Linked DNA regions of Homo sapiens: all the other regions are linked to region 2. The links come from fine-mapping of genetic effects on gene expression. A gene starts in region 2. Each other region holds a variant in brackets. All regions are shown on one strand. Distances are from middle to middle.

What was found.
Region 1: its variant is fine-mapped to the expression of MGRN1 in whole blood (GTEx, PIP 0.93).
Region 3: its variant is fine-mapped to the expression of MGRN1 in whole blood (TOPMed, PIP above 0.99).
Region 4: its variant is fine-mapped to the expression of MGRN1 in kidney cortex (GTEx, PIP above 0.99).

The regions. Positions count from the first base shown.
Region 1 is chr16:4,572,582-4,580,680 of GRCh38, reverse strand. C16orf96 (chromosome 16 open reading frame 96) reads right to left here. Exons shown (of 16, transcript NM_001145011.2): 3 at 5,892-5,972; 4 at 5,623-5,709; 5 at 4,046-5,507; 6 at 1,656-1,741; 7 at 556-666. Among named protein-coding and RNA genes, the nearest start is that of C16orf96, 20 kb to the right of the region's middle. The variant G/T (reference allele first, on the strand shown) is at 3,475.
Region 2 is chr16:4,620,163-4,628,261 of GRCh38, reverse strand. It overlaps MGRN1 (mahogunin ring finger 1), which reads right to left and starts at 3,436. Exons shown (of 17, transcript NM_015246.4): 1 at 3,214-3,436. The coding sequence starts at 3,301. RefSeq lists enhancers at 1,588-2,116, 2,647-3,176, 3,360-3,654, 3,177-3,707, 3,665-3,774 and silencers at 2,945-3,174, 3,415-3,594.
Region 3 is chr16:4,681,157-4,689,255 of GRCh38, reverse strand. It overlaps MGRN1 (mahogunin ring finger 1), which reads right to left. Exons shown (of 17, transcript NM_015246.4): 13 at 7,480-7,706; 14 at 6,310-6,433; 15 at 5,987-6,032; 16 at 5,324-5,413; 17 at 1-460. The coding sequence ends at 348. Among named protein-coding and RNA genes, the nearest start is that of NUDT16L1, 8.4 kb to the left of the region's middle. RefSeq lists an enhancer at 5,976-6,476. The variant G/A (reference allele first, on the strand shown) is at 3,613.
Region 4 is chr16:3,909,025-3,917,123 of GRCh38, reverse strand. No RefSeq gene overlaps it. Among named protein-coding and RNA genes, the nearest start is that of CREBBP, 32 kb to the right of the region's middle. The variant T/C (reference allele first, on the strand shown) is at 4,505.

The sequences.
Region 1 (8,099 bases), 48 kb after region 2:
GAGATGGGGTCTCCCTGTGTTACCCTGGCTTGTCTCAAACTCTTTGTCTTAAGTGATCCTCCCACCTCAGATTCCCAAAGCGCTGGGATTACATATGTGAGCCACCGCACCCAGCCTAAATATTTCTTTTTATTATTATTTTTTTATTTTTATCACCCAGCCCAAAATGTCAGTAAATATTTCTACCTCTTGGCTCAGGGAAATGTTAAGAATGTAACAGTTGGCACAAGAAGTTCTCTTAATCATTCACTGAGTCATTCAGCAAATGTGATGGAGCCTTCACTACCCCTGCCCTTCCAGGGGCAGGTGACGCAGTGGTCAAAAAGACGAACATTGTCCCGGCCCTTCTGTTTATATGGGTGGGGGGGGGTGGTGGGATTCGTTTGCTTTTCATTGAAGTGTAATTTACACACAGTAAAATGCCAGTAAAGCCCCACTGGTTCCCAGCCTCAAGTGCATCCCCACCTCATGCAGAACCTTCGGGAAGGGCCAGAAGGTCTAGGTGAGGAATTCTCCCTTTGCCAGCCCTTCTCCAGCCTACCCAGTCCTCCTAACCTTGAACTCATCCATGCGAATCTGCAGGTTCTCCACCGCCTTGTCCAAAGTGATGTAGCGATCCTTCATCATCTCTATTTGGTTGCCCCAAATTCTCTCAAGTTCTTCCTCCTAAAAGGGGGAGACACAGACACCCCAGGCCTCTGCTTCTGAAGTTACCATGGCCGGGAAGGGGCCTGAGGGAGGGTTGAGGCCAAGAAGAATGTACCAGACCAGGCTGGGCGTGGTGGCTCATGCCTGTAATCCCAGCACTTTGGGAGGCCAAGATGGGTAGATCAACTGAGGTCAGGAGCTCGAGACCAGCCTGCCCAACACGGCGAAACCAGTCTCTACAAAAAATACAAAAATTAGCCAGGTGTGGTGGCGGGCCCCTGTAATCCCAGCTACTAGGGAGGCTGAGGCAGGAGAATTGCTTGAACCCAGGAGGCAGAGGTTGCAGCGAGCTGAGGTCACGCCACTGCACTCCAGCCTGGATGACAGAGCAAGATTCCGTCTCAAAAAAAAAAAAAAATAAGGTATCAGACCAGGGTGCCTTCCACCTGCCATTTTTTTTTTTTTTTTTTTTTTTTTTTGAGACAGGGCCTTGCTCTGTCACCCAGGCTAGAGTGCAGCGGCGTGATCTTGGCTCATTGCAGCCTCCACCTCCCAGGCTCAAGTGATCCTCCCACCTCAGCCTCCCGAGTAGTTGGGACTGTAGGGACAAACCACCACACCTGGATAATTTTTGTATTTTTTTGCAGAGAAGGGATCTCACTATGTTGCCCAGGCTGGTCTTGAACTCCTGAGCTCAAGTGATCTGCCTGCCTCAGCCTTGTAAAGCGTTGGGATTACAGGTATGAGCCACCGCACCGGCTTCACCTGCCCTCTGAACAGCCACCTGAGACACAGAACCGTGTAGCCCCACACCTGCTGGGCCCCCCCACCGCACCAGTGAATCAGCTTTGAGAGGCAGCAGCTGCCTTCGCAGCCAGCTCGCTTTCCCCCAGCCTGTTTTGCTGCAGAACACAGCTGCACCTGGGAGGGGGGCAGAGTCAAGGAGTCTTCAGCCAGCTCACCTCAAGCCATCACTGCCTCAAAAGCCCTTCGCCGGAGACACTAACCTTGAGCCTAGATTTCTGGAGGCTGCCAATCTTTTTCTGCAATATGTCCACTGTTGTCCCGAGGCTGGAAGGACCTCCCATATTGGCTGAAAGCAGAGGACAGGGTGGCTGCTGAGGGCTCGGATGGAGGAAGATGTTTCTGTTGGGCTCTAGCTGCTTCTCTTATGGAGCATCTCAGGCAGCACTGCCCAGTGGAAATGCACTGGGCCTCGCAGCTTGTGGTACCTTTTTATTTATTTCTTCATTATTTTTTAATTAATTTATTTTTTGAGATGGAATCTCGCTCTGTCACCAGGCTGGAGTGCAGTGGCGCGATCTCGGCTCACTACAACTTCCGCCTCCTGGGTTTAAGCAATTCTCCTGCCTCAGCCTCCCGAGTACCTGGGATTACAGGCACACGCCACCACGCCCAGCTAATTTTTGTATTTTTAGTAGAGACAGGGTTTCACCATGTTGGCCAGGTTGGTCTCGATCTCTTGACCTCGTGATCCGCCTTCCTCAGCCTCCCAAAGTGCTGGGAGTACAGGCATGAGCTACCGCACCCGGCCTATTAGTTTTTAAATTAATTAAAAAAAATTTTTTTTATCAGGTGCAGTGGCTCACGCCTGTACTCCCAACACTGTGGGAGGCCGAGGCAGGTGGATCACCTGGGATCAGGAGTTTGAGACCAGCCTGGCCAAAATGGAAAAACCCCATCTCTACTAAAAATACGAAAATCAGCCAGGCTTGGTGGCACATGCCTCTAGTCCCAGCTACTTGGAAGGCTGAGGCAGGAGAATCTCTCGAACCCAGGAGGCGGAGGCTGCAGTGAGCTGTGATCACGCCATTGCACTCCAACCGGCGACAAAAGTGAAACTCCATCTCAAAAAATAATAACAATAATTAAAAAAATTTTTTTTTAAATTTTGTTTGTATGGAGACAAGGTCTCACTCTGTTGCCCAGGCTGGAGTGCAGTGGCACGATCATAACCCAGTGCAGTCTTGAACTGCTAGGCTCAAGCAATCTTCCCACCTCAGCCTCCTGAGTAGTTGGGACTACAGGCCTGCGCCACCACTCAGGCTTTTTTTTTTGTTTTGAGGAGGAGTCTCGCTATCGCCCAGGCGGGAGTGGCACAATCTCTGCTCACTGCAACCTCTGCCTCCCGGGTTCAAAGTGTTTCTCCTGTCTCAGCCTCCGAGGTAGCTGGGATTACAGGCGCGCACTATCAAGCCTGGCTAACTTTTGTATTTTTAGTCGAGACGGAGTTTCGCTATGTTGGCCAGGCTGGTCTCGAACTCCTGACTTCAAGTGATCCACCTGCCTCATCCTCCCAAGGGACTGGGATTACAGGCGTGAGCCACCGCACACGGCCAATGTTTAAAATTTTTTTTTTTTGAGACGGAGTCTAGCTCTGTCGCCCAGGCTGGAATGCAGTGGCACGATCTCGGCTCACTGCAAGCTTCGCCTCCTGGGTTCACGCCATTCTCCTGCCTCAGCCTCCTGAGTAGCTGGGACTACAGGCGCCCGCCACCATGCCCAGCTAATTTTTTTGTATTTTTAGTAGAGACGGGGTTTCACCGTGTCAGCCAGGATGGTCTCCGTATCTGCCTGCCTTGGCCTCCCAAAGTGCTAGGATTATAGGCGTGAGCCACCGCACACAGCTAGTGTTTAAAAATTTTTTTAGAGATGAGGTCTTGATGTTACCCAGGGTGGTCTCGAACTTCCAGTTCAAGCAGTCTTCCTGCCTTGGCCTCCCAAAGTGCTAAGATTACAGGCATGAGTCACCATGCTTAGCCAATACAATACTGTTTTATGGGCTATCACAAAGGAGTTTTTTTT[G/T]TTGTTGTTGTTTTTGAGACAGAGTTTCGTTCTTGTTGCCCAGGCTGGAGCGCAATGGCATGATCTTGGCTCACCGCAACCTCTGCCTCCTGGGTTCAAGCGATTCTCCTGCCACAGCCTCCCGAGTAGCTGGGATTACAGGCATACACCACCACGCCCAGCAAATTTTGTATTTTTAGTAGAGACGGGGTTTCTCCATGTTGGTCAGGCTCATCTTGAACTTGCGGTCTCAGGTGATCCGCCCACCTCAGCCTCCCAAAGTGCTGGGATTACAGGTGGGAGCCACCACGCCTGGCCACAAGAGTTTTTGAGAGTAATTTTGGCATGCCATTTTCCTCGTGCCAACTTTAGACCCTAACAGCCTCCCTGCCCTAAGATAAGACCTCATTGTACATTCAACAGAAAAGAATAGACTCGTTAAGAGCCAAATGCTTAAGCCAAAGGAAAGAATGGCTAATGGTGGAATGCAGATTTTGTTGGTGGAGCCCAGTGAAGGACAGGACACACTTCTCAAAGGCTGCAGGGAGAGCCCCACTCCCTTGTGCCCTTCCCAGGGCCAGACCAGGCCTACCTAGATAACTCAAGCGCTGGTTCAGGTTACAGGACAGCTGGGCAAATTCTTCCTTCAGAGAGTCGTGTTTGACAGGTATCTGGGCTATGTGGCTCATGGAATACTTGACAGCCCTCTTCTTGTCTTCAGGGCTCATGGCCTGCTTGGTAGCCACCATGGCCTGGGACAGGGCTGGATCGGGACCGATGCTGGCAGCAGAGTAGGAGGGAGAGAGGATTTCGTAGATTTCGGAATCATCGCCCAAGATCTGGGATTCTGTGGCTCCCCGGGAAGGCCCTGCACCCAGGACATCTGCAAAGACCCCTAGGGGCCCAGCTGCAGCCGTGTCTGTTGCAATGGCGGCCATTTTGGTGGCTGGGGCATCCTTGACAAACTTGGCAGCAACTTTGGCTGCCTGGGCAGCGGAGGATGTGGCAGCGGCGTAGGCTGCGGCGGCAGCGGCGGCGATGGCAGCGGTGGTTTTCAGCCGGTGAAGGGCAGACTGGGGAGCCTTAGGCTGTGCTTCCTTGGGGGCCCCATCCTTGCCAACTCTATCCTTGGGGTCCCCATCTTTGCCACCTCTATCTTTGGGGACATCATCCTTGTGAGCTCTATCCTTGGGGTCCACATCCTTGCCACCTCTATCTTTGGGGACATCATCCTTGTGAGCTCTATCCTTGGGGTCCACATCCTTGCCACCTCTATCTTTGGGGACCCCATCCTTGCGAGTTCTATCCTTGGGGGCCCCATCCTTGCGGGCCCTCTCCCGAAGGCCCCTTAGGCTGGGGACATCATTTTCCTCCCCCTTTACTTGGACAGCTGCGAGCTGGAGGGCTTCTCCCTGGCGAGACTGATATGGCTGGAGTGGTCGAGGCCACAATGAGCCAAACTCAGTGGCTGGTGGTGGGGCCCTGGAGGGTTGGGGCTGAGTTGGCCGCAGGACACCTAAGTCCCACAGAGGCCAAGAGCCCACCCTGGGCCAGCCTTGGGGAAGAGGCCAGCGTCTTGGGAGTGCAGGCCAGTCTCCCAGTGGTGGAGGCTGGGCACCTGGGGCAGGCACAGGTCCAAGCACAGGCCAAGGTGCTGGCAAGGACCCAGGTGTCACACTGGGCCCTGGGACAGGCCCCAGGGCAGGCACAGGCTCCAGCTCCAGCCCCAGCTCCAGTCCTGGCACAGGTTCAGTCCCAGGTGCAGGCCCAGGTGCAAATTCAGTTGTGCACCCAGGTGCAGACTCAGGCGTGAGGGCCGGAGGCTGCGCTGGCTCCTGGGCTCTGCTGAGTGAAACTGCTTGGGCAGATGAGCCCTCCGGGAGGAGCTCTGGGACCTCATAATGCCAGACAGTCTGCAGTAGCTGGGGGTTTTGGACGGGCTCGGAGACCTGGATGGCACGAGTAGCTTCAAGGTACTTGGTGGTCTGGGCCAGGGCAGCCTCTGGGAGCTGCTCTACAGACTGCCACAGGTCCAGTGGTGATGAACCAATTTCCTGCAGAAGAGGGGGCAGAGGGGCTCTGCTGGCTTCCAGCCCCGCCTCCCACTCTCAGTCAGCCACCCGCCTGCTCCCCAGCTTCCTGCTAACCTCCCCTTCCTTCCTCACTCACTGAGGTGAACATGGCATCATGAAGGCCACTCCAGAGCACCATGTCCTCGGTTTTGGGGATGGTTTTAAACTTATTCTGGAGAGAAGCCTGCAAGGTGGGGGTAGAAAATGAGGGCTGTGAGCCTGGAGGGGGCAGTGTCCCCCACACCTGCAAAGAAACCTTTCCAGGCTGTGTTCTCCTCCTTGCACCTCCCTACCCTCAGCACCCAGGACCCGGGAGGTTGGGGGGTCCCAGGGGGAGTGGGGGAAGACAGGGATGGTGGCCCTCACCACTTCCCGCTGCAGTGCAACCATCTTCCAGTTCTGTATTTTGAAGTCTTCAGCAAAGATGTCCATTCTTTCTGGGTGTACCTGTCAAAGGAACTGAGTCTGTGGACTGGGGGTCCAGGTTCTGTCCCACCCCTGCCTTTTCCCGTGGCTCTAGGTGACTAAGAGCTTGAGAAGGAAGAACGGGTTCCAAATCCAGTGTTTCCCAAGGAGTGGGAAAGGGTTCCATGGGCAAACAAGTTTGGGAAATGCTGGGCTTGAAAGCATGTCAGGCCGGGCACAGTGTCTCATGCCTGTAACCCCAGCACTTTGAGAGGTCAAGGTGGGTGGATAACTTGAGGTCAGGAGTTCGACAGCAGCCTGGCCAACATGGTGAAACACCGTCTCTACTAAAAATACAAAAATTAGCTGGGCCTGATGGCATGCGCCTGTAATCCCAGCTATCAGGAAGCTGAGGCAGGAGAATCACTTGAATCCAGGAGGCAGAGGTTGCAGTGAGCTGAGATGGCGCCACTGCACTCCAGCCTGGGCAACAGAGTGAGACTTTGTCTCAAAAATAAGTAAATAAATAAATAAATAAAAAACATTTCAACAGGTTTCTGTACGGCAGGACTTCCCAGAGCCTTGAATGAGCAAAAGCACATTAAGAATCTCCAAGAGGGCCGGGCACAGTGGCTCATGCCTGTAATCCCAGCACTTTGGGATGCTGAGGCGGGTGGATCATGAGTTCAGGAGTTCGGGACCAGCCTGACCAATGTGGTGAAGCCCCCACCTCCACTAAAAACACAAAAATTAGCTAGGCGTGGTGGCTTGCACCTGTAATCCCAGCTACTCAGGAGGCTGAGGCAGGAAAATCACTTGAACCCGGGAGGCAGAGGTTGCAGTGAGCTGAGATCGTGCCACTGCACTCCAGCCTGGGTGACAGAGAGAGACTCCGTCTCAAAAAGAATACAAAACAAAACAACAACAACAAAAACACCTCCAAGAGACAGGCCAATAAGGCATTGTTTTTCTTTTCTTTTTTCTTTTTTTTTTTTTTTTGAGACAGAGTCTCACTCTGTTGCCCAGGCTGGAGTGCAGTGGTGTGATCTCGGCTCACTGCAAGCTCCACTTCCCAGGTTCACACCATTCTCCTGCCTCAGCCTCCTGAGTAACTGGGACTACAGGTACCTGCCACCACATCCAGCTAATTTTTTGTATTTTTAGTAGAGATGGGGTTTCACCGTGTTAGCGAGGATGGTCTCGATCTCCTGACCTTGTGATCTGCCCACCTCAGCCTCCCAAAATGCTGAGATTACAGGCGTGAACCACCATGCCGCCCCACCGACCCCACCTTTTTTTTTTTTTTTTTTTTGAGACGGAGTCTTGCTCTGTCACCCAGGCTGGAGTGCAGTGGCGCAATCTTGGCTCACTACAATCTCCACCTCCTGGGTTCAAGTGATTCTCGTGCCTCAGCCTCCTGAGTAGCTGGGGTTACGGGTGCCTGCAACCACACCCAGCTAATTTTTGTATTTTTAGTGGAGACGGGGGTTTTACCATGTTGGCCAGGCTGGTCTCGAACTCCTGACCTCAGGTGATCCGCCTGCTTTGGCTTCCCAAAGTGCTGGGATTACAGGCGTGAGACACCAGGCCCCGCCGAGAAGGCATGGTTTCTCCAACAGCTTTGTCTAAGGGGCCCTTTTGAGTAGCTCATGATGCAGCTTTTAACAGCGTTCTTTCTGCTTAGATGGGAGCCATCCAGCCCATGCCTAAAGCTCCCACAGTTGCCATGATGATCAAATACAGGCCCTGATCTGTGAAGCCGGGATGATACAGAAAATTACACTATTTGGGGGAAGTTGTTAAACCTGGGGGTGTGGAGAGCTGGCTTCAGACCCCAGCTGTGACTCATCAGTTGTGACGGGGACAGCTGCCTCATGTCTCGGGGACTCCATGTCCTTCCATGCATGGTAGGGTGTTAGAAAATACTTGGCTGATGGTTTTTGGCTACAGAAGTACAGAAGGAGCTTGTATGTATGCCTGCACTATTATGATTATTCCACTTTCCATGTGGACAGAGCTTTCCAGAAGGGGAAGAGGTTTTCTTTTTGCTAGGTTGGTGGAATATAAGTCTGCTGTTGCCAAGACTTGAGGAGCACCTGCCTGAGAATGAAGCCAACTGGGAGGAAAGTTTCACTGAGAAACGTCAGTATTGCCGGATGTGGTGGCTCA
Region 2 (8,099 bases):
AGCGCCTGCCACCACACCTGGCTAATTTTTTGTATTTTTAGTAGACATGGGGTTTCACCGTGTTAGCCAGGATGGTCTCGATCTCCTGACCTCGTGATCCGCCTGCCTCGGCCTCCCAAAGTGCTGGGATTACAGGCGTGAGCCACCGCACCCACCCACAATTCTTTTTTTTTTTTTTTTTTGAGACGGAGTCTCACTCTGACACCTAGGCTGGAGTGCAGTGGCGCAGTCTCGGCTCACTGCAACCTCCGCCTCCTGGGTTCACACCATTCTCCTGCCTCAGCTTCCTGAGTAGCTGGGACTACAGGTGCCCGCCACCACACCCAGCTAATTTTTTGTATTTTTGGTAGAGATGGGGTTTCACGGTGTTAGCCAGGATGGTCTTGATCTCCTGACCTTGTGATCCACCTGCCTCAGCCTCCCAAAGTGCTGGGATTACAGGCGTGAACCACCGCGCCCAGCCTTTTTTTTTGAGACGGAGTCTCGCTCTGTCACCCAGGCTGGAGTGCAGTGGCGCAATCTCGGCTCACTGCAGCCTCCACCTCTCAGCTTCAAGCAATTCAGCCTGCCTCAGCCTCCCGCGTAGCTGGGACTATAGACGCCTGCCATCACGCCCGGCTAAATTTTTTTGTATTTTTAGTAGAGACGGGGTTTCCCCGTGTTAGCCAGGATGGTCTCCATCTCCTGACCTTGTGATCCGCCCGCCTTGGCCTCCCAAAGTGATGGGATTATAGGCGTGAGCCACCGCGCCTGGCCAGACGACTGCACAATTCTATAATTTAACTAAAAATCATCAAATCATGTTTACAATGGATGAGTTGTGTGGTACATGAACTACATCTCAATAAAGCTATGAAGAGTAAAACAGATATAGTGAAAACAAAGCAAATATTAAATTCAAGCTGAGCGCTGCTGCAGAACATGCTGAAAGTTCCCTTAAGAAAAATGGACAGTGTTAGGTGTTAAAAATGCATATATTACCACCCAGTGACTCTTTCTCCTTGACATAATCAACAAAATTGACAGAGATGTGAAAAGAAAGCTTTCTCATCGGGTGATTGAATGGTCCATGGGGGCAACCCCTAAAATCATCTCAAATGTCTCCACGGTCCCCGGTCTGCCCTTGGGGAAACACACCAAAATGCTGCTGAGGCCCGGCCTGCCTCCCACCCTTGACCTGACGGAGTTCTCATTAAGGAGACAGGAGAGGCGGGGAGTCTAGGAAACCAGTGCGGCACAAAGGCAAGGACCAGAAGAGATGAACAAAGAGAAGAACAAGTATCTGCAAGGCCCCAGGGAAGGATGGAGAAGAGAAAGGGAAAAAGCACAGCTGGAGAGGACCTGTGGACTGGATGGGCGCAGAACACTGCTGGCACTGGCAACATGACCCAGGCAGCTAGCTGATGGGTTGCACCTGGGTGCCAGTGCCAACCAATAGTGGCTGACGCGAGTGTTCTGCGATGGATGCTCAGTGGGAGGGAGGGCCACGAGTGATTAGCAATGACATTTCAGCCACAGTGGGATCCCGAAGCGGGCTGTAAATGACATGTATGTTATTCTGTTCAGCCCAAGTGAAGAACGGACATCAAGTGAGCTCAGGTCCCAGGTGACAGGAAGTGCCACTCAACTTTTTGATATCTGTGTCATGCCACTGCTTACTATGATTATGGTCATTAGCTAGTCACTTATCTTCCTTTATGAGCAATTGTAGCAGCTACCATTTGGGGACTTCTGAGCCAGGTGTGGTTCTGAGGGCTGTATAAGCATCAGCCCGTTTTACAGATGAGGAAACTGGGACCCAGGGGGTTAAGCAACCTCGACCAAGGTCACTCAGCCAGAGGCAGGCTGGAAGAATATCAGAGATGAAAGAGGACAACAGCAAACTGCTCCATCTGATGTAGGGCCATCAGCCCTCGGAACCTCTAGGGAAACCCCAGGGTGGAACCACCCAAAGGCCAGGCTGACCCGCTGCTGGGCCTGGGATACAGCTGTGCTCTCCCCAGCAGGCAGGCAACAGTGCGTTCTGCCTAGCTCTGAGTCCATCCCCTTCAGAGTGCCCCCAAACTGTGCTGGTTCCCCTCACTTCATCCCAGTGGCCCCAGGCCCTCACCTAGTCACACCTTACAAAACCTGGGCAGAGCAGTTTTTCAAACCTGAGTGGACGTAAAACTCACATGGGGAATGGGTTGAAAATGCAGGTTCCCAGGCCCCAAGGGGTCCCAGGCAGGCCCTGGCATGTCTAGCAGTCCTCCCCCACTTGTGGACCTGGCCCACACTCAGAGAAATCTGGCCTGTGGGTGTCCGGAGACACCCAGGAGACTGAGACATCAGATCAGATGAGACGCCAGGATCTGAGGACCCAATCTAGATGTCCCCATGATGCCCAAGTTCTCTCTCCTCTTCCTTCTCTCCTTTCCACCACAAAGAACCCCACGAGGAGATGGAGGGTGAGACTTGGAGCTAGATGCTCCCAGTCAACACATAACTCATCAATAGAGGCAGAAAGAGAGCTGGGAACAAAGCTACGTGGGAGCCCCACAGCTGGTCCCGGTCCCAACTATGCTTCCATCCAGCTGAGATCTTGGCAGTCACTTCCTCCTTGGTGTCTTACGTCCCTCAGCCATAACACAGAGGCCCGAGTATCGGCTGGGTCCTCTCAGCAAGGACCCTGGCCCCTCCCGATCAACTATAATCGTCTCCTTGGGCCCAGCCCCACTCCTCCAACCCACACACCAAGAGCCTCCGTCCTGATGGGAGGGAAATTGCCCAAACCACTGGCTCGGCCTTCACACCAAGCCACTAAAGAAAGCGAAAGCCGGCCCCCGCGGTGAGGTCAATCTGATGACAATGAGAGTTTTCTAGGCAGAAGCGATGCGCCGGGACCCGCGCTCAGCACCCCGCCCCGCCCTCGGGGTTTCCCCCAGGAGCTCCCCCCTGTTGCAAGGACGGAGCTGAGGTGCCCGGGGCGAAGGGACTGCCCCAAGGTCACCCAAGCCGGGCAGTAGCAGCGCCAGGTACGGCTCGGGCAGGTTCCTCCGGGGCCCCCAGCCACGCCTAGGGATCGGGGCCGTGGGGCCGCGCGAAGGCTCGGGGTAGCAACGAGGCCCGGAGGGGGCCGAGCAGGGCGCCCCGCCCCGAGTCCCCGCCCCCGCGCCCGCCGGGTCCGCGTTCCAGCGCGTGCCTAGCAGTCCGCGCCTGGGGCCGGGCGCTCACCGGACTTCGGAGGGTAGCGATAGGCCGAGTTCGCCTGGATGTCGATGTCCTCCACCCCCGCGATGCGGCGGCTGAGAATGGAGCCCATGGTGCGCGGCGCTGCCGGGCAGAGGGGCCAGGGCCGGAACGGGAGCGGCGACAGCGGCGGGGTCCTCACGCGGACATGGCCCGGACCAGGCCGCACGGACGCTCGTCCACGGCCGCGGAGGCGCCTCGAGCCCCCACCCCCGGCTCGGCCCGGGGACCGACGCCACGGCGGCCCTCCGCCTCCCGGTCCCGGGGCACGTCGGGAAATGGAGTCCTCTCGCCGCCGAAGGCGCCGGGAAGCAGCGCGGGAAGCCCGTCTGGGAACTATCTTTCCCAGGATGCTCCGTTCCCAGGCCCTCTGACGGGTTGACAAGCACTCCGGGACAAACCAAATGGACCTAAATTCAGAGGGAAGGAACCAACCAACCACAGGGCAAATGGTCCTTCCCTCTGCGTTCCAAGCGCTGCACTAACATATTAACTCTTTGGTCATTTCCTCATCTGTTCGCTTACAGACTCTCCTGGAGCCCCAGCGCCTTCCACTTGCCCCCTCTGAAATAGCTCCCTGAGTCGCTGTGGTTCTCCCCACTCCCCTGAGTTTGTCTCCCGCCCCGACCGGCAGAGGGCGTAGCTGCACCTGCCACCCGGAGCCCACTTGCAGGGTGTGCACGGAAGAAGTGAAGCACCTGCTTTGGCCTTGGCCAGAATTTGAGGACTACCATTTGGGGACTTCTGAACCAGGTGTGGTTCTGAGAGCTGTATAGGCATCAGCCCGTTTTACAGATGAGGAAGCTGGGATCCAGGGGGTTAAGCAACCTCCGGCCCCCTGACAAGGCTGAGGCCCGGTGCAGTGGCTCACCTGTAATCCCGATACTTTGGCCCCACGTCTGGACCAATTAGTTTAAAGACATAATTTCACAGCCTCCACGGAAGGCAGTAGACTCTCCCACATTTTACACACAGGGAAACTGAGGCACAGAGGAGAGAGAGCCGCATGAAATGGCGCTGCGGGCAAGATTGCAAGAATCGCTTTCAGAATGAAAACCTCGCAGTGTGCAAGGTGTTCCCTGGCTTTTGAGTCACACACAGCTCTGCAAATAGATCGCTTTTTACCTACTTTTCAGTTGAGGAACTTGGATTCTGAGCAGAGTGATTTCCCAAGTCAAGCCTGCTGTACCAAGAAAGCAGCTAGGGAGGGCAAGGCAGACTGAGTCTCCAATGGTCAATTCACCACAGTCCATGTGGAAATGCTTCTTATACCCTTCCAGAGACCACAGTCCAGGATCCAGTCTTCCTCTTTTTTTTTAAATTGTTCTGTCGCGCAGTCTGGAGAGAAGTGGCACAATCTCAGCTCACTACAGCCTTTGCCTCCCGTGTTCAAGCGATTCTCGTGCCTCAGCCTCCCCAGTAGCTGGGATTACAGGCATGCACCATCACACCCAGCCAATTTTTGCATTTTTAGTAGAGACAGGGTTTCACCATGTTAGCCAGGCTGGTCTTGAACTCCCGTCCTCAAGTGATCCGCCTGCCTTGGCCTCCCAAAGTGTTGGGATTAGAGATGAGCCACTGCACCTGGCCTCAGACTTCCTCTTGTCAGGGGAACTTGGGAAGCCAAATGAGTACGGCAGCCAAGAGACTTGTGTGATTATGATGCAGGTCCAGGTCTTGGAGGAGCCTGATTAAATCTCCCTGCCCCACAACCAAGATCCACACTTACTGAGCATTATGTGCCAGGCATCATGCTGAGGGCTCTGCACATATCCTCTCATATAATTCTTTGATGTTGGCCGGGCGCAGTGGCTCACACCTGTAATCCTAACACTTTGGGAGGCCGAGGCAGGCAGATAGCCTGCACCCAGGAGTTCCAGAACAGACTGGGCAACATGTCATGACCCTGTCTCTACCAAAAATGTAAAAATTAGCCAGGTGTGATGGCACGCCCCTGTAGTCACAGCTACTCTGGAGGTGGAGGCAGGAGCATAGCTTGAGCCTGGGAGGTCGAGGTTGCAGTGAGCCATGATCATGCCACTGCACTCCAGCCTGGGTGATAGAGTGAGACCCTATCTCTAAAAAGGATAAAAATTTTAAAAAATAAAATATTAAAAAAACAGGCCAGGCACTGTGGCTCACGCCTGTAATCCCAGCACTTTGGGAGGCCGAGGCAGGCATATCACTTGAGGTCAAGGGTTTAAGACTAGCCTTGCCAATATGGTGAAACCCTGTCTCTACCAAAAATACAAAAAATTAGTTGAGCGTGGTGGTGCGCGCCTGTAATCCCAGCTACTGGGGAGGCTGAGGCAGGAGAATCGCTTGAACCTGGGAGGTGGAGGTTACAGTGAGCCCAGATTGCGCCACTGCACTCCAGTGGGAGTGAGAGAGCGAGACTCTGTTTCCAAAAATAATAATAATTAAAAAACAATTATCTGGCCAGGCACAATGGTTCACGCCTGGAATCCCAGGACTTTGTGAGGCCGAGGTGGGCGGATCACCCAAGGTCAGTTCAAGACCAGCCTGGCCAACATGGCAAAACCCCCATCTCTACTAAAAACATAAAAATTAGCTGGGTGTGGTGGCATGTGCCTGTAATCCCAGCTACTCGGGAAGCTGAGGCAGGAGAATCGCTTGAACCTGGGAGGTGGAGGTTACAGTGAGCCAAGATTGCCCCACTGCACTCCAGTGTGGGTGACAGAGCGAGACTCTGTTTCCAAAAATAATAATAATTAAAAAACAATTATCTGGCCGGGTGCAATGGTTCACACCTGGAATCCCAGCACTTTGGGAGGCCGAGGTGGGCGGATCATTCAAGGTCAGGAGTTGGAGACTAGCCTGGCCAACATGGCAAAAACCCGTCTCTACTAAAAACAAAAATTAGCTGGGTGTGGTGGCACGTGCCTGTAATCCCAGCTACTCGGGAGGCTGAGATGGGAGAATTGCTCGAACCTGGGAGGCGGAGGTTGCAGTGAGCGGAGATCGCGCCACTGCACTCCAGCCTAGGCGACAGAGCAAGACTCTGTCACAGAAAAACAATCTGATGTAGATTCTATTTCTATTACCAATTTACAAAACAGTAAAGTGAGGCTCAGAAAAATGAAGTACCCTAATGAGGTTGCACAGTAGGTGGGTGGCACAGCTGGAATTGAGCCAGGCCACTGCTCTTACCTGGGCACGTCCCTGCCTCCACAGAGGCATGCTCCAGAGTGCCAGATTGCCAGGCTCTTGCCCCCAGATGGATGGGCCTGAAGCCCCCCACCCATTGTGATCTCTCTTCATTTTATATTTCTTTCCATTGAATCACGTAACTCACGTACATGTACATGTATTTGTGTATCAACGCTGCATTCAACTGACTGCCCTCCTCATTTGCGGGGAGGAAGGGAGAGTCCTGAGCATCAGCTGTTCCCACTGAAAAACAACACTAAGAGCATATCCTCCCTATGGAGCCTGTGCCAGAGCAGTCATTTCCACCAGGTGGATGTTTCATTAACTCTTCTTCTCAACAGAGCTTTGGACTCAAGGTGTCCTCAAAGCCCTTTCAGCAGTATTTTTCTGTGCTTACCCACACCCAGATGGAAGACAGGCCCTTCCCGATTTGGTCCAAGTTCCATTATCAACATCTGAGTGGATTCATTTATTTTTATTTATTTATTTATTTATTTTATTTTTTTTGAGATGGAGTTTCGCTCTGTCGCCCAGGCTGGAGGACAATGGTGCAATCTCGGCTCACTGCAACCTCCGCCTCCCGGGTTCAAGCGATTCTCCTGCCTCAGCCTCCGTAGTAGCTGGGATTACAGGCATGTGCTACCACGCCCGGCTAATTTTGTATTTTTAGTAGAGACGGGGTTTCTCCATGTTGGTCAGGCTGGTCTCGAACTCCTGACCTCAGGTGATCTGTCCGCCTCGGCCTCCCAAAGTGCTGGGATTACAGGCGTGAGCCACCGTGCCCGGCCTGGATTCATTTATTTATTTACGTTTGGAGACACAGTCTCACTCTGTCACCCAGCCTGGAGTGCAGTGGCATGATCATGTGGGATCTCGGCTCGCTTTAACTTCCGCCTCCCAGGTTCAAGCGGTTCTCCTTCCTCAGCCTCCCGAGTAGCTGGGATTACAGGCACCCACAACTAATTTTTGTATTTTCAGTAGAGACAGGGTTTCACCACGTTGGCCAGGCTGGTCTTTAACTCCTGACCTCAGGCAATCCCCCCACCTTGGCCTCCCAAAGTGCTGGGATTACAGGCGTGTGCCGTCATGCCTGGCCAATTCATTGATTTATTCAACAAATATTTATCCTGCAGCTACTATGTGACAGGTGATGAACCAGGCAACAGGCATCAAATGGTAGGACAAGCTAGACATGGAGGCTGCAGGCAGGTGAGGAAATAGACGCTAGAAAGGTTAACAAGTATATAATTCCAGAATGTGGTGGGTGCTCTGCAGAAAACGTTGAGATGCAATTAATTGACACTATTGGCAGGGGAGTCAGGGAAGGGGTTTTTTTGAGGAGGTGACAGCTAAGCCAGGACTTGATTTATTTTTTGTTGCTGTTGTTGTTGCTGTTGTTTGAGACGCAGCCTCACTCTGTTGCCCGAGGTGGAGTGCAGTGGAGCGATCTCAGCTCACTGCAACCTCCGCCCCCTGGGTTCAAGCAATTCTCCTGCCTCAGCCTCCCGAGTAGCTGGGACTACAGGCGCGTGCCAGCACACCCAGCGAATTTTTGTATTTTTAGTAGAGATGGGGTTTCACCATGTTGGCCAGGCTGGTCTTGAACTCCTGACCTCAGGTAATCTACCCACCTCGGCCTCCCAAAGTGCTGGGATTATAGGCGTGAGCCACCGCGGCCGGTTGCTAAACCAGGACTTGAA
Region 3 (8,099 bases), 61 kb before region 2:
GGGACCGCACTGTTGCAGGAGCAGGCAGAGCCAGCGGAGGCCACACGTGGGCAGCCCCAGCCCCAGCCGCTCAGCCCACAGGACCCTGGGGAACGGGGGCTCTGAACTAGGGATGGAAAGCTGCTGTCCTTCATCTTGTACCAGTTACAAATATATCAACTGTAGAAAAGGGAGACTCAGAAGGGACAGTTCACTGTGCTCTTTGATCAAGAGTCACCACGGCCCCTCGGAGCCTGGTGGCCACAGGGGGCATGCAGACAGGAGGCCGGCTCACAACGGGGTCCGGAGCAGCCCCTCGGCAAAGTCTGGGGAGCCGAGGGCTCCATGCTGCCAGCTCGGCCAGGCTCTCAGAGTGGGGTCAGCTCGGCGGCGCTGGGATCGGGGCTGGGGCCACCAAGTGGAGGCCAGGTGGGGCTGGTGGTGGCGAGGCCGTGGGCCGTCTCCATGGAGGTGGGCCGTCCTGCAGGTGGGAGCAGAGGGAGGAGGGTCACACTCGGATGCCTGGTGCCACGCCACCCGCTCCTACCGATCTGGAGCCCCAGAGGGGCTGGGCCATCCAGCACCCCCACTCCCGCCGCCTGTGGCCACAACAGCATTCACTCAGATGTGAGCACACCAAGGGCCCGGGGACTCCCTAACTGTGCCAAATACGCTGTGTCCCTCTTGGGACAGACGATCCCAGATCCCCGGACACCCACAGCAGATCTGCAGCCCCGAGTCAGAGCGCGACACGGCACCGCGGTGGATGCCCTCTGGGCCTCCTGCCCTTGCCCTGGTTCCGGTTTCCTGGGATGTGGCCAGCCACTGTCCTGCCAAGGTTCTTACGGCTGGGTTAGGGTGGAACTCGGTCAACCCAGGGTGCAGGGGTGGGGAGCGGCCCTGGGTGAGAACAAGCCCGTGCTCAGAGTAGCCCCCGGATGGCTACTGCAAGGCAAAGAGAGGAGCCTCCCACAGAGCCCCAATGCCCAGACTGTGGCCTGCACGACGCCGCCGGGCGCTGTCCCCAGATGGGTCTGGCGTCCCTGGGGCTTGGGCAATGGTGCTGGTGCAGAGCCTGGGACGGGGCCAGCATGGCCTCAGGGCTGCCTGACACCCAGCCACCAGCCCTGACACATGGCTCCCAGCAGACACGGCCCAGGCCCCACTCTCCGGTGAAGGGCGTCTATTTTCTTCGGGGGCCGCGGCGAGAGCAGGTTTCCGAGGCTGTGAGCCCTGTTCTAGATCACACCTGCACTCCCCAGCTCCGGAAGCTTGACCTGAATCGTGACATTCGCACGGCACCTTCCACCGATGCGCAGGCCGGGGCCGTCTGAAAGGTGCTGACTGTTTCAATCTAGGGGTATAATGGCTCAGGACAGGGGTCAACAGAGGGACTCGCTGGGCTCAAGAAGACAGAGGTTCATGGGAATGCAGAGCGCAGTCAAAAGAAGCGAAGTTCTCCCTGACCCGGCTCAAGTCCACCCAAGGGGAAAGGGCCTCTTAGAGCCTGCACCCCCGGCCAGGCACCTCCCAGCAGGCTGCATGGGCCTCGGCAGACCAGAGCTGCACGCAGCTTGTGTGCCAAGACCCTCTGGGAAGGCAGAGGGTCCCCAATCCGTCTGCCTACATTTTGGTGGCACTCCTGGAGCTGCCTTCTCTCTCTCCCCCGTGTGTGTGTGTGTGTGTGTGTGTGTGTGTATTTTTTTTTTCTTGAGACAGGGTCTCAGGCTGGAGTGGGTGGGTGGGTGTGTGTGTATTTTTTTTTATTGAGACAGCGTCTCAGGCTGGAGTGGGCCTTGACCTCCCCAGCTCCGGCAATCCTCCCACCTCAGCACCCCTGAGTAGCTGGGACCACAGGCACAAGCTACCACGCCCAAGCCAATTTTTTATTTTTCATAGAGAGGGGGTCTATGTTTTCTACACTGATCTTGAATTCCTGGGCTCAAGTGATCTATCCCCTCGGTCTCCCAAAGTACCGGGCTTATAGGTGCGAACCACTGCCTGGACAGAGCCGCCTTCTGTAAAACACTCACCTGGGCCACCCTGGTAGAGGGCGCCTCTTGGGGGGGATGGGGGATGCCAACCTCACAGGGCCTCCTATCTTTTAGTGCTGGTGTTCCAGAAGGTTCCAGTACTGGGAGGGACAGGTGAGTCGGCAGCAGTGGGCTCATGGCACAAAGGCAGCCCACGAGGGACTGTGTGCCAGGCCCATGGTGATGCCAGGCCCACGGTGGCCATGCTGACAAGGGAAGGAGGGAGCGGGGGAGCAGGTGGCTGTGTGAGCGGACGCCCTCAGGACAGGACGCAAGATACTCTCCCCTGGGCACCAGAGGGCCCCTCGAGGACGGACTCCCTCCAAGAGACAGGGACTGAGCTTGGGAAGACGTGATCCAGGGGCTCTCCCAATCGGGGCGCATTCTTTCCCCATGAATTGTTAAAGCCACGACCGGAACACGGGAGTGGACCTGCTGAGCGTCCTAACGTGTCTGCTGCAGGACCGATGCGAACTCATGGTGGGACCATCCGGAACAAGGCCAGGCCCAGGCCTCTCCCCTTGGGACGCTCACCCCATGTCTCCCTGGGGTTCCCTCCACGGTGCTGCCCTCATCCCTCAAGCTCCTGCCTCCCGCAGTGGACAGTGGCTCTGGCGCACCTGGGCTGTGTCTGTCTCCCTGCCTGGGCTGGGACTGTTCCAGGGCCCCTCAAGGCTGGAAGAAGAGCCTGACCGGCCGCCTAGTCCAGATGGAGAGACCTCTGGCCCCGAAAGTCAGGACCCCCCAGGAGGCCACTTTCTGGGGGAAGGTGCAGCAGCCACTGGAGAGCTCTGGATTCGGAATCCAGGGCCCCTGGGAAGATGCGGATGCGGACGAAGACCCAAAAACCAGAAGGAACCCCCGCCAGAGAGCAGGGGAGGGCTCCTCTCTCCAAGGACGCGCGTCAGAGCCCCCGAAGCGCGTCTGGGAGGTCACGTACCGGCTTACTCGTCTATACCAACAGAGCAGGAGTCGGGCCCCAGGGCTGCGCGGAGAGGGGGAGAGACAGACGGAAGCTCGGTTAGCAAGCGCGCAGCAGCCAGCACAGCCACAGCAAGGGCACCAGCTTGGGGACACGGTCGAGGCCGTCTAGAAACAAACACTCTGCTGCAACCACAGAGAACCACAAGGAGAACCACAGCTGGGAGGCAGAGCGCAGCCAGAATTCAACGCGGAGGAGCGCACTGGCCCTGCCCCTCCCTCCCATACCTCCCGCTGCCGCAGCCTAGGGAAGGGCGCATGAAGGACCTAACGGGCGCAGTCCACCTCTGGTTTCAGGAGTGAAGGCCCTGGGTGGGGGGCTGAGGCTAGACAGGACCGAGCTCAGGGCCAAGTCCAAGACACCAGGGCCCCCAGTGTTCACCATCTCATGGGCCCTCCCATCTACAGGGACAGCAGGGTTCAGTGATGCCGCCCACCCCGCCAGGCAGCGGCTGCACCCCTATGAGAAACCAAAGGCTCTGGCGTGTGTTCATGCCTTACGCACAGACACGGATAGACAGTCAAGGGCTCTGTGATGTGAAAAAGTCAGTGGAACAGAGGGGCCACCACATGGATTTAAAAACACACAGAAACCTGTGCTGACAAGGCTGACAGCCAC[G/A]GAGATGGCGCCAAACAGCCCCCAAAGGCACATGTGCTCTCCGTGGCTCAGAACTGAGGCCGTGCAGGCTGACCTGCTGGCATTCAGCAGCAGCCAACTCCAAGAGCGGGGCCCAGGGCCCAGGAGTTCACCTCAGGCTGCCCCGATGTAGACTCGGCCTCTCCTCTACCGCCTCCACAGATGACGACTGCCTGCCCCCGTCTGTGGGCCTGAAGAAGGCCCGAGACCCTCCCCTGTGGGTGGGGCATGAGACTCGGAGTCCTGGCCTCCTCTGTGTGGGCCTCCTCTGTAGCTGTCCCAATCCTTCCCAGGCCTGGCCACAGAGGGGAGGCGCAGCCTCTGAGATGCTCCCCCACAGGGCCACCCTGCAGGATCAGATATCATGTTCGTGGCTCCCAGAAGCTGAGGTCCTTCTGGCCTCTTCCCCGATCACCCCCCAAGTTTTTAATCAGAATGAAATATTTGAGATCCTCTGAAAGACCTTACTCGAATTCTGTGTCACTTTAAGGTAAGCTGGTCCTAAACACACCTTCTGCTGTGAGTTGTTCGGGGCAGGCCGCTGTGGTCATCAGGGCACCAGAGGCAGTGCCTGCTCCTGCACCTGCGACCTGTCACGCCCAGCCCATGAGCACAGGCCACTGCTCAGCCAGAGTCCGGGGGCACAAGAGCCCCTTTCCAACTAAAGCACGTCACAACCACCCAATGTCAGGCCCAGGTCACCAGGTGACTCAGGAGGATTGAGCAATGGTGGGCCCTGGGGCCAGGAAGCGGGTGAAGCCTGGCAGCCGCGAGGGAAGAGCCACACTCCCTAAGCAGTGGCTCTGGGGTCATGTCTGAAAGCACCGTGGCTGTTTATCGCAGTTCCAGAGCCGCAGACAGCCTCGTGGCAGGTGCTGAGACACTAGTCTGAGAGCCCCCATTCCCTCCCGGTCTTTAGAGCTTAGGATTCGAAACTGAGGATCTTATCCCAGCAGAGCAGAGCACGAAGGTGCTTGGCTGATGGGGTCTGGGGCCCGAGCCTCCGGGAAAGGTGAGAAGAGCAACCCTCTGTCCCAGCCTTGCTGCCTTGCTGTTCCCCGCTGGCGCCTGGCGCCCCCGCCGTCCTCTGTGCCTGGCCTGGGATGTGCTGCTGCATCAGGTGGCCTCTGTCAGGCCCGGGGCAGGGTGACCCAGAAGACACTGCCCCTGCGCTCTGTGGCCCAGGGCCCCCGCTACCCAGCACAGCGTGTGGTACCTGCTCCTGCTCTGTCTGCAGCTCTCAGGCACTGCCAGGAGCGCACGTGGCACCCAGCATGGGGCCTGTGGGCCCACGATAGGACCAGGAGTGGGGGAACATGTGGTGATCCCAGTGGGGCCGGATCTGCCCTCCTGGCGTGAGCAGCAGGCAGAGGGAAAAGGACCCCATCCTCTCACAGGCAGCCTCTCTCGCGTCTCTCACCTCCTGTGGCCAATGTGGCCCCAGGGAGGGAAGGGGCTTTGGTGCAGGTTCCGCTCCCAAGAGCCAGGCCCTGCCTGAGGCTGCTTTGTGGCCATGGCCCTGGCCCGCATCCTGCTTCACGGTCAATAGCAGGGGCATGGCTGAGAGCCAGGGAGAGAACCAGGCTCCAATGGACAGCCTCTGCTGCTATGCACCGACCATCAGAGCAGGGCCCCCTCCCTGGGGACTAAGACAGGCACCCAGCCCCTCACCCCCAGACCCCCAGCCCCTTACCTGGCAGGTAGATGTCAGCAGGTGGGCCTCGGCCACAGTGCTCGGGGCTGCTGTCCTGCAGGACATTCTCAATGGAAGCTGCTCGGGTCCCTGCAGGCAGAGGGTGAGGTTAGGGACCTACAGGCAGGGGCCAGGTCCCGGCAGGTCCCTCTGGGCAGGAGGCCGTCTCTCTTACCCAAGGGCTCTGTAGCCACTGTGGGGACCCCAGGCTTGTGCTCCAGCAGGACTCCACCGTGACCCCACCTGCTCTCCAGGGACCCCAAAGCTGGGTGTTTCCCTTCTATTTCCCTCCTTCCCATCCCCCAGCATGGGGCTTTTTTTTCCCCTTTTTTACACTGTGTCCTGGATGTTCAGAGCATAGGGCTTTTTTTTTTTTGGTCATAGAAACATTACACGCTCATGTTTCAAAACCAGGACTGAATGCTGGCAGGTGTTCCCCATCCCAGGCAGACAGCCCTGCAGGGTCAACAGCGCAGCCTGACCCAGTCACCCGTTCAGTCCCTCCCAGCCGGGATCCCAGTGCCGCCGAGGGGGGCCTCTTGGCCGAGGGTTCCTGGGGCAGAAGAGGTGCTGGCCCAACACCACCTGGAGCCCTAAGGCCCCAGTAAGCCAGGGCTGCCTGGTCCCTGCATGCGGTTTGTGCCCATGGAAGGAGGCGCTCACCTTGCTGTGGTGACGACGACTCATCAACCTCTTCTGTTATGAAACTCTAGGAAACAAAGGGGAAAGTAGCCTAGAGCTCAGAGAGCCGCGGCCACCGCTCCAGGACAAGCCGCCATCAGGCACGGCCCTCCCGGGACCGCACAGCCGCTCCACCAGGGGGTGCTGCCTCCACAGACCGAGGCTAAGGAGCCGCGCAGCTCAGCAAGAGCCAACAAGCACGGGGGCGCCCAGGCGGGCAGTGGGATGGGGTCTGATTCCAGCGACAGAAGCTGGAGGAGGGCTGGCCCGGGCGGGTGCGCAAAGCTTCCCCGGGGGGGCCTCACCTCAGGGGAGCTGCTTTCCCGCAGGGCCAGCTCTGCGCCACCCAGTGGGGGAGGGGCGTCCACGTCCTCGGAGAGCTTCTCCTCATCCTCTTCGTGGATGGGGGAAGACGGGGACCGTAGGGTGCTGGGGACAGAGGAGAGGGTGGGCAGGGGTGAGAGGATAACGACAAGGAAGGCTAACCCTGCCAAAGCCATGCAGGGCACCTGGGGGCCCCTGCACACGCCTGCCAGGACCCACGCAAGGACACTCCCTGGAGAAGGGCATCACCAGCCACCGGGACCAACCCAAACGGCCAACAGGCAACAGCGGCCACCACAGACCCGCCCGACAGAGGGGCTCCCGACACACTGGCACGGGCCTAGCCTTCCTTTTCTTTCTAGAAGGAGAAGAGAAACCGCTGGTGGTTCCTGGGGAGGAGAAGCAGCAGGAGACAGAGGCCCCCGTTTCTCTGAGCTTTGGCGCTGCCTCCTCGTGGGCATGGAGGGTGCCCAGGGCGGGCCTGCAGAACCCGCGCCTTCCTGACACTCTTCTACGAGAACCGACAGGCCTGAGGCACAGAGTCCCCCTGGCAGCCGCCGCTCTATACACCGCAAGGCTCCAGGGGAACCACGAATGACCCGTGGCCAACCCCAGGAGCCAGGCCCTCCGAAGGCTGTCGTATGAGTGATGGATGATGCACTCATCGCCTGGAGAGGGACCGTGCCCCGTGGCTCGTCACGGGCGAACGGCAAGAGCAGTGAGTGTGCCTGGGTCACTGTCAGGTCCTGAGTTTCGGCTGCCCTGGCTGGTCACCGGCAGAGTGGGCCTACGTGGCCAGCCCCCCAATGAAGTCTGGGAACCCAGAGGCTCAAAGGGGCTCCCCTCAGCAGAGACACAGCACCGACCCCTGCAGTTTCCTGCTCGAGAGCACGTATGCGCCTGCACGCCGGTGTGGCCCTGGTCGGGGGATCAAAGCCTCCAGCTGCCCGGACGCTCTTCCTGCCTCGTCTGCTGCGTTCTTTGCCGTAATAAACTTTACCCATGAGTCTAACCTGATACGGGGTCTCCGAGTCCTTCTGGGGAATCGCCACACAGAACACATCACAAACTGATTTGAAACCACAAAGACACCCGCTCCGCACGCGCGCCACCACACACCCTGCCATGCACCTGGCCTGGCTGCTGCTCACCTGTCGGGGGCCTTGCTCTGCGGCCTGCCCTTCTGGCGGCTGCTGTCCAGGATGTGGTCGATAGCCGCGAGGGGACAGCTGGCCTGGGACAGGCCGTCCGAGATGCCTGAATAGGTGATTTCTTCATAAAGAGGGGCCGAGGGGATGGCCGGGGAGACAGCCCGGAGGCCGTTGAGCGCCTCGAGCAGCGAGATGGGCTCGTAGCCAGGTGGGACGCTGTCAGAGTTCTGTAGGGACAGGGTGCGTGAGGGGGCTCATGCCCAGGGACCACCTGCTCCCCAGACGCTCCTCCTGATGACCTCCTGTCCACTCTGTTCTTTGGGGGATTGAGACTCCCCCACCCTCAGAGGGTGGCCAAGAGCTCCCTGGCAGCACCGATGCCCTCCCTGCCTCAGCCATCAGCTCCAGCACGGGGCTGGATGCCCAAATGCCCACGCTGGTGCCTGGGATGACGGGCACGAGGGCATCTGCCAAGAACCGCCCCAGCCCTGGCCTCAACCAGCCCCTCCCTGGCTTTCAGTCCCGCCTGGCCCCAGGTGGAGAGTGAAGGGTTAGTGACAGACAGGAGCTGGGAGCGGGGGCAGAGCAAAGCCATGCCAGAGGCGAGAGACACGGTCAGG
Region 4 (8,099 bases), 710 kb after region 2:
AGGGTTTGGTCTTCACCAGTGGCCAACACAGTGCTGTTTTAATGACATAGCAGCTGGTTTTCCCCAGAGGAGGGATCTGAGAGCAAGGGAGGGAAAAAGTAGGAACCCACAGGCCTTTTATGACCAGTCCCCAAGGTCACACAGTGTCACCCCTGCCTTATCATTTAGAAGTGATCCACTAATTCCATCCCACATTCAACGGCAGGGGATGAGGCTCCACCTCTTAAAGGGAGGAATATCAAAGAGTTTGTTGTGGATATATTTTAAACCACAGCAGGCAGCGGCATTCACATCCCAGTTTAAGAGTCTTTAATTAACTTGCCCCAGATCACACACAAGGAAGTGGTGCGAATGAGATTAGAATCCAGCTCCCGGCCAGGTGTAGTGGCTCATGCCTGTCATCTCAGCACTTTGGGAGGCTGAGGCAGGAGGATCACTCGAGTCCAAGCGTTTGAAACCATCCTGGGTAACATAGTTAGACCTTGTCTCTACCAAAAATAAAAAAAATGAGACAGGAAGATCACTTGATACCAGGAGGTCAAGGCTGCAATGAGCCATGATTGTGCTACTGCACTCCTGCCTAGGTGATCTGGGTGATGGGAGTAAGACTCTGTCTCAAAAAAAAAAAAAAAAAAAAAAAAAGAACCAAGCTCCCCAGAGCCCATGTCCTTTCTCTGGTGCATGCTGCCCTCATGGGAAGAAGGCAGTCATAACCCGGCCAGCTCTCACCCTGACCTTGCTACAGCCCCTGAGAAGATGTCACTGAAGGCTGTGTCTATGTGTGCACTCAAACAAATTGGCTGCTACGGCTTCACCAGGCTGCATCTGCTCTCTCTGGACTACTGGTGGCTACTATCATCACCAAAGCAGTGTCTGTGCCCTGTTTTATAGGGTAAATCAGCTCATCTTTACTTATGGCGTATATGCACCCCCAGGTTCCTCCTGCTCCCTGGCTACGTATGCCACAGGGTCTGAAGAGCCAGAGGGGTGTGCGGTGTTGGTATGTGATAGGCCATGTAACTAACTATTCCAGGTCAGCTCACTGGGCCTGGCTCCTCCCTTCCACGGGTGAGTGATTTCCTGGAAGCTCCTTGGCCTGTGCACAAGCTTCTGGTGAGGCCCGACCCACCAGCCCAACATACATTTCCAAAGCATCTGAGTCCATCCCAGGTCCCAGCCTGGGCCCAAAACTAGGGTTTCCCCCATCAGGAAACAGGGAGAAGGAGCCCAGGAAGTTTGAGCCAGGGCCACCTGTCATGCTTAAGGCACAAACATGGGTCCAGATGCCACCGAACGGTACATTGCCTGTGCCAGACTGGCTCAAGGCCCAGAGGGGCCAACTGCCAGGTGGATCTCCATGTGCCCAGCAGAGAGGGGCTGGGGAAGGCAGAACCCGAGGTCTCCTCTCTCCTCCTCTCCCTGCCCTGCGTCCATCACCAGGACGTGCTTCGTGGTGGAAGAGCCAGAGGGGCGTGCAGTGTTGGTATGTGACAGAACTTGTGTGATCACTCCCTGCTATGCAATTAAGTGCAGATTCCCCACGCTGTGGGGAGTGTGCCAGCCCCGCCCTCTGTGCGGTGTGGGACTCAATGCTGTCACTGTGAGATCGGATGGGCCTTGGTGTCCTGCTGTCCTTGGATATGTTCCTGAGCTTAGGGTGATCCATTCGTAAAAGGGGAATAGGGGCATCTACTTCCCAGAGCGGTTGTGAGGAGTCAACAAGATCATGCGTAGAGAGAGCTTGACTCAGCCCTCCCGGTAGGGTAAGCACTCAGTGGGTGTCTGCTGTTGGAGGATGGTCCAACTATTGTCACCATTGTCACCATTCAGAGGGGTGGCCACGTTTTGCACATTAATTGTCATGGTGTGGCCCTAGGACTACTTCTACAGGGCTGGACTTCTCGCCATCAGTCCAGGTGTGCTGTGACCCCATCAAGATCCATTCTTACTCTATGTGGGCCTTCAATTTGCACCATACAAGTCAAACTCCCGAGAGAGGCTGGACTGAGAGGGAAGGATGAGGTCAGGGCCCTCAAGAGGGCAGGACAGGAAGCTTTGTGGATCAGGAGAGAGTGGGGCCCATTCACATCAAATGCGTTTGTCCCAGAACTGTTTCTACCCTCCAAGGAGCGTCTTGCAATTGAAGTAGGTAAACTCCGCTGTTGTTGTTGCCCGTGGGAGGTCATATACGTCCTGGTTTGCATGGGGGCTATTTTGGAGGGTTCAGAGTGGTAAAGATGAACAGAAGCACCCATCGAAGGTGATGGCCAGACGCCTGCAGGAACGGGTGGAGGAGGCAGAGAGAAGTGGAAGAGGGACAGAGGACTAAAGGAAAGAAGAGGCCACCAGGTAGCAGGAGAGCACCAAGGAGGCGCGAGTCCTGGATCTTGCATCCGTCTCTGTGTCGTGGGAGAGTCCAACTCCCACTGCAGCTCACCCCAGCAAGGCAGCTTGACAAAGCTCTGCTGTCTCCTGATCCCGGTGACAAACAACCCGTCTGCTTGTTTTAGGGCTGCCAAGGCCTGTTGTACAACGCAATGGGGTAAACCCTGCAGACATCAGCCCTCCTTATTCATCTGCTATTTGGCGCTAAGCATTCAGTATTTATCTTGGTCAGGCACAGTGGGTCACGCCTGTCATCCCAGCACTTTGGAAAGAAGAGGTGGGAGGATTGCTTGAGCCTGTAAGTTCGAGACCATCCTGGGCAACTTAGTGCCCAGTCTCTATGAGAAAAAGTTAGAACTGCCCGGGCGTGGTGGTCCACATGTATAGTCACAGCTACTCAGGAAGCTAAGGCAGGAGGATTGCTTGAGCCCAGGGATTCAAGGCTGCAGTGAGCTATGGTCTTGCCACTGTACCCCAGGCTGGATGACCGAGAGAAACTCTGTCTCTAAAAAAAATCAAATAAATAAATAAAAATCTTGGCTGGGCACAGTGGCTCATGCCTGTAATCCCAGGAATTTGGGAGGCTAAGGCGGGTGGATCACCTGAGGTCTGGAGTTCGAGATCACCCTGGCCAACATAGCAAAACCCTGTCTCTACTAAAAATACAAAAATTAGCTGGGCATGGCGGCACGCGCCTGTAATCCCAGCTACTCGGGAGGATGAGGCAGGAGAATCGCTTGAATCCAGGAGGCGGAGGTTGCAGTGAGCTGGGATCATGCCACTGTACTCCAGTCTTGGAGACAAGAGCAAAACTCCGTCTCAAAAAAAAAAAAAAAAAAAAAAAAGACTGGGTGCGGTGGCTCATGCCTGTAATCCCAGTACTTTGGGAGGCCGAGGCAGGCAGATCACGAGGTCAGGAGATCGAGATCATCCTGGCTAACATGGTGAAACCCCGTCTCTACTAAAAATACAAAACATTAGCTGGGCATGGTGGCGGGCACCTGTAGTCCCAGCTACCCAGGAGGCTGAGGCAGGAGAATGGCATGAACCTGGGAGGCGGAGCTTGCAGTGAGCTGAGATCATGCCGCTGCACTCCAGCCTGGGCGACAGAGTGAGACTCCATCTCAAAAAAAAAAAAAAAAAAAAAAAAAAAAAAAAAATTCTTACTGCTGCAATTGACTAGTCTTACTTTTTTTTTTTTTTTTAAATATTATTGCAGGCCAGGCACAGTGGCTCACGCCTGTAATCCAAGCACTTTGGGAGAGGCTGAGGCAGGTGAATCACTTGAGGCCAGATGTTCAAGACCAGCCTGACCAACATGGCAAAACCACATCTCTACTTAAAAAAAAAAAAAAGCACAAAAATTATCTGGGCATGGTGGTGCATGTCTGTAGTCCCAGCTACTCAGGAGGCTGAGGCCCAAGAATCGCGTGAGCCTGAAAGGTAGAGGTTGCAGTGAGCTGAGATTGCGCCACTGCACTCCAGCCTGGGTGACAGAACGAGACTCTGTCTCAAAAAAAAAAAAAAAATTATCCCAAAAAGAGAACTGTTAGACAGTCCACGCATCTGTGCATGGATGCACAAAATCATGCATGCTGCAGTTTAAGGGATTCTAAGGGTCATGAGTCTTGTGGACCAAACATGATTTCATCATCATTTAGAGCCCACGGTAGACAGGACGCTGCAGTTTCAGCTGGGGCTGGGCTTGGGCAAGTCATTAAACATCCATGTGCCTCAGAGTTAGTAGAAGCCATACATTCACAGTGAGTTGGTGACCAAGACACAGTTCATGGATGCCGGTCCCCACCTGGGCCCCCTGCAGTCTACCCTATGGCCACCCAGCCCAGGACACTCAAAGGCAGCCTCATCCCTGCTCTCATGGCTTCTTCATGTACCACCGAGTGGCCCTAAGGAAGGGAAAGGATTCACACGCAGGGCCCCCATTATGCACTAGGCACTGAGCTCATTGCTTTCCATGATCTGGTAACCACCATTCGGTGGGCAGCGCCTACGCTCCTTAGATGCTCACGACTTCTTAGCAAGAGGAAATCCAGGTTCTGAGAACCCAGCTTGCCCAGAGTTGCCTGCTAGTGGTGGCAAAGCCTGTAGATGAGCCACG[T/C]GGCCCCTCCCGGGTCGAAAGCCCAGTTTGCTGTGCTGCATCCTCTCTCCCCATCACCTCATCTGAGCCTCATGACAACTGGCAGGAGGTGACGAGAGCGGCCTCGCTCTACAGGCAATGAGATGCAGGCTCCAGGCTGGGACTCAGCCTCATTCCCAGGTTCTTCCAAGGCCCCCCGTTGCCCATGGACATCACAGAGGGGAGAGGGGGGCATGGGGCAAAGAGAGAAAGCGCCACACAAATGGAATCACAGCCTCATCACTTCCACGAACAAAGGTCTTCTGGGGAACTTCCATGAGTAGGCACACATGGCCACGTGCCGAAACCCGCCTCTCTCTCAGCAGCCACCTGCATCTTCCTTGAAGATGAATGTCTTTCTCAGTTGCTGCCTTTTGATTTGATTTGGTTTGACTTTTGTTTTTTGAGACGGAATCTTGCTCTGTCACATGTGTGATCTTGGCTCACTGTAACCTCCCCCTCCTGGGTTCAAGTGATTCTCCTGCTTCAGCCTCCCAAGTAGTTGGGATTATAGGCACTCAGCACCACGTCCAGCTAAGTTTTGTATTTTTGGAGAGATGGGGTTTCACCATGTTGGCCAGGCTGGTCTTGAACTCCTGACCTGAGGTGATCTGCCCACCTCCACCTCCCAAAGTGCTGGGATTACAGGCATGAGCCGCCGCACCCAGCCTGATTTGACTTGAGAGACAGAGTCTTGATCTGTTGCCGAGGCTTGAGTGCAGTGATGCAATCACAGCTCACTGCAGCCTCGACCTCCCGAGCTCAAGTGATCCTCCAACTTCAGCCTCCCAAGTAGCTGGGACTACAAGTGTGAGCCATCACATCCAGCTAAATGTTTTTTTTTTTTTTTTTTTTGAGACAGAGTCTTGCTCTGTCACCCAGGCTGGAGTGCAGTGGCACAATCTCATCTCGCTGCAACCTCTGCCTCCCAGGCTCAAGTGATTCTTGTGCCTCAGCCTCCTGGATAGCTGGACCACAGGCACATGCCACCATGCCCACCTAATTTTTGTATTTTTAGTAGAAATGGAGTTTCACCATGTCGGCTGGACTGGTCTCAAACTCCTGGCCTCAAGTGATCTGCCCAACTCCGCCTCCCAAAGGGCTGGGATTACAGGTGTGAGCCACTGAGTCCGGCAGAGCTTAGCATTTGAATTGGAGCAGACTCAATATAGAAGATCACCCTCACCAATGCAGGTGGGCAGGTACAATCCTGAATAGCACAAAAAGGCTGAGGAGGGGTGAATTCTTTCGGCTCCAACTGGGACATCCTTCTTTTCCTGCTCTCTGACATTGGCGCTTCTGGTTCTCAGGCCTTTGGACTCAGACAAGGACTTAACCCATGGGCCCCGCAATTCCCAGTCATTTGAGTTTGGATTGGAACCACACCTCCAGCGTGCAGATGGAAAATCTTGGGACTTCTCTGCCTCCGTAACCATGTGAGCCAGTTCCTCATACTCAACCTCTTTCTGTGTATCTATACACATCCCATTGGCTCTGTTTCTCTGGAGAATACTGACTCATACATGTTGTCTCCCAGTTGATATCTCAGGGCCCTACATTCCTGGGAAGGTACCTGTGACTGGCTTGGCCCACACAGAAGCCCTTAAAACTTCAACCTTGACAGCTTCCCTGGTGGAAAATAGTTACTCTTTATCCTCGGTAGAAAGTTTCAAAAGACCGCCAGATGTGGTAGCTCACAACTGTAATCCCAGTGCTTTGGGAGGTCAAGGCTGGAGGATCACTTGAGCCCAGGAGTTTGAGACCAGCCTGGGCATCACAGTGAGACCCCATCTCTACAGGGTTTTTTTGTTTGTTTGTTTGTTTGTTTGTTTGTTTTTAATTAGCCAGATGTGGTGGTGCATGCCTCTAGTCCCAGCCACTAGGAGGCTGATGTGGGAGGATTGCTTGAGCCTAGAAGGTTGAAGCTTCAGTGAGCCGTGATTGAGCCACTACAATCCAGCCTGAGCAAGAGAGCAAGACTCTGTCTTAAAAAAAGAAAAGTTTCAAAAGACATCCAACCAAGCCATCAGGCCTCCTTTCTCTCCTAAGCTGGCCTGCTCACCTGCTCACCCTAGAGGGGCAGGGCCGAGCTGGAAACTCCTTTGGCTGCAGCACTGGGGGTGCTGGTGTGGGGGTGGGGTCTGCGTCTTCCCTGCACACTGCATGTTGCTCTCAGCACCATCAAGAGAGGACAGTTCACGGCGGTGGCAGATGGGACTATTCATGTTGCCACCCTTTCTGAGGAACTCCTGGAGGCCCAGAGACAAATGCAACCAAGACCCCGCCCTTCCTGGAGCTCACCGGTTGCTCTTAGTGTTGCCATAGAAACAGAAGCCTGGACTGCGGCCGAGGGCTCAGTTGCGGCCTCCCCTAAAAGATACGTCCACCTGGAACCTCCAGGATGCGATCCTATTGGAGTAAGGATCTTTGCAGATGTGATTAAGCTGAGGCTCTCGCGATGAGATCATCCTGGATTACAGTGGGCCCTATGACAAGTCCTTAGAAGAGAAGGACAGATACAGAGACTCCGAGGAGAAGGCCATGTGAAGACGGAGGCAGACTGGAGAGATGCAGCCACAAGCCCAGGAAGGCCTGGAGCTGGGAGAGGCAGGACAGACCCTCCTCTAGAGCCTCTGCAGGCGGCGTGGCCTGCTCACACCTTGATTTTGGACCTCAGCCCTCCAGAACTGTATAAGAATAAATTTCTGTGGATTAAGCCACCCAGTTTGTGGTCATTTGTTTTGGCAGCTGCAAAAAAGAATACAAGGCGGCCAGGCACAGTGGCTCACACCTATAATCCCAGCAATTTGGAAGGCTGGGGTGGGTGGATCACCTGAGGTCAGGAGTTCAAAACCAGCCTGGCCAACATGGTGAAACCCTGTCTCTGCTAAAAATACAAAAACTAGCCAGGTGTAGTGGCACGCTCCTCAGCAGGCTGAGGCAGGAGAATCACCTGAACCCGGGAGGCAGAGGTTACTGTGAACCGAGATGGTACCCCTGCACTCTAGCCTGGGCAACAGAGCAAGACTATGTCTCAGAAAAAAAAAAAAAAGAAAGAAAAGAAAAGAAAAGAAAAAAAGAATACAAGGGCGGCTACTGCCAAAGACAGGGCTCCCTAGGACGAACACTCTGAGATGGAGAGGAGCATGCAGAGATTACTCAGGTGCCCTTGTCAGCTCGCGTGGGGAAGTGCAGAAGCTGGACATGCCCGGGAGACGCTGGGCTGTGCCACAGGCCGGAGCACGGCCTCACCCAACCTCCACTTCAGACCTGGGTTCAGGGAACAGGCTGAGATTCTCCCCCTGCCTCAGCCACCTCCAAGTAGAACCCAGAAAGGGGATGTGAACTTGACCTTGACCTTGAATGAGGCAACTCTCCTCAGTCACGGGCAATTCGCAGGACATTCCAGCAGTCGGAGCCCAAGTCATTCAGTCCAGAAGGGAGGGCGGAGGGTCATCACACTGTCCGTACAGCCCCGATTACTTTTATGCCAACAGTGGGCAGAGGGATCCCCTGCTTCGGGGGAAGAGGGCTGCCTGGCCCCGATCCAAGTGTCACCTGGAACTCAGCATCCACC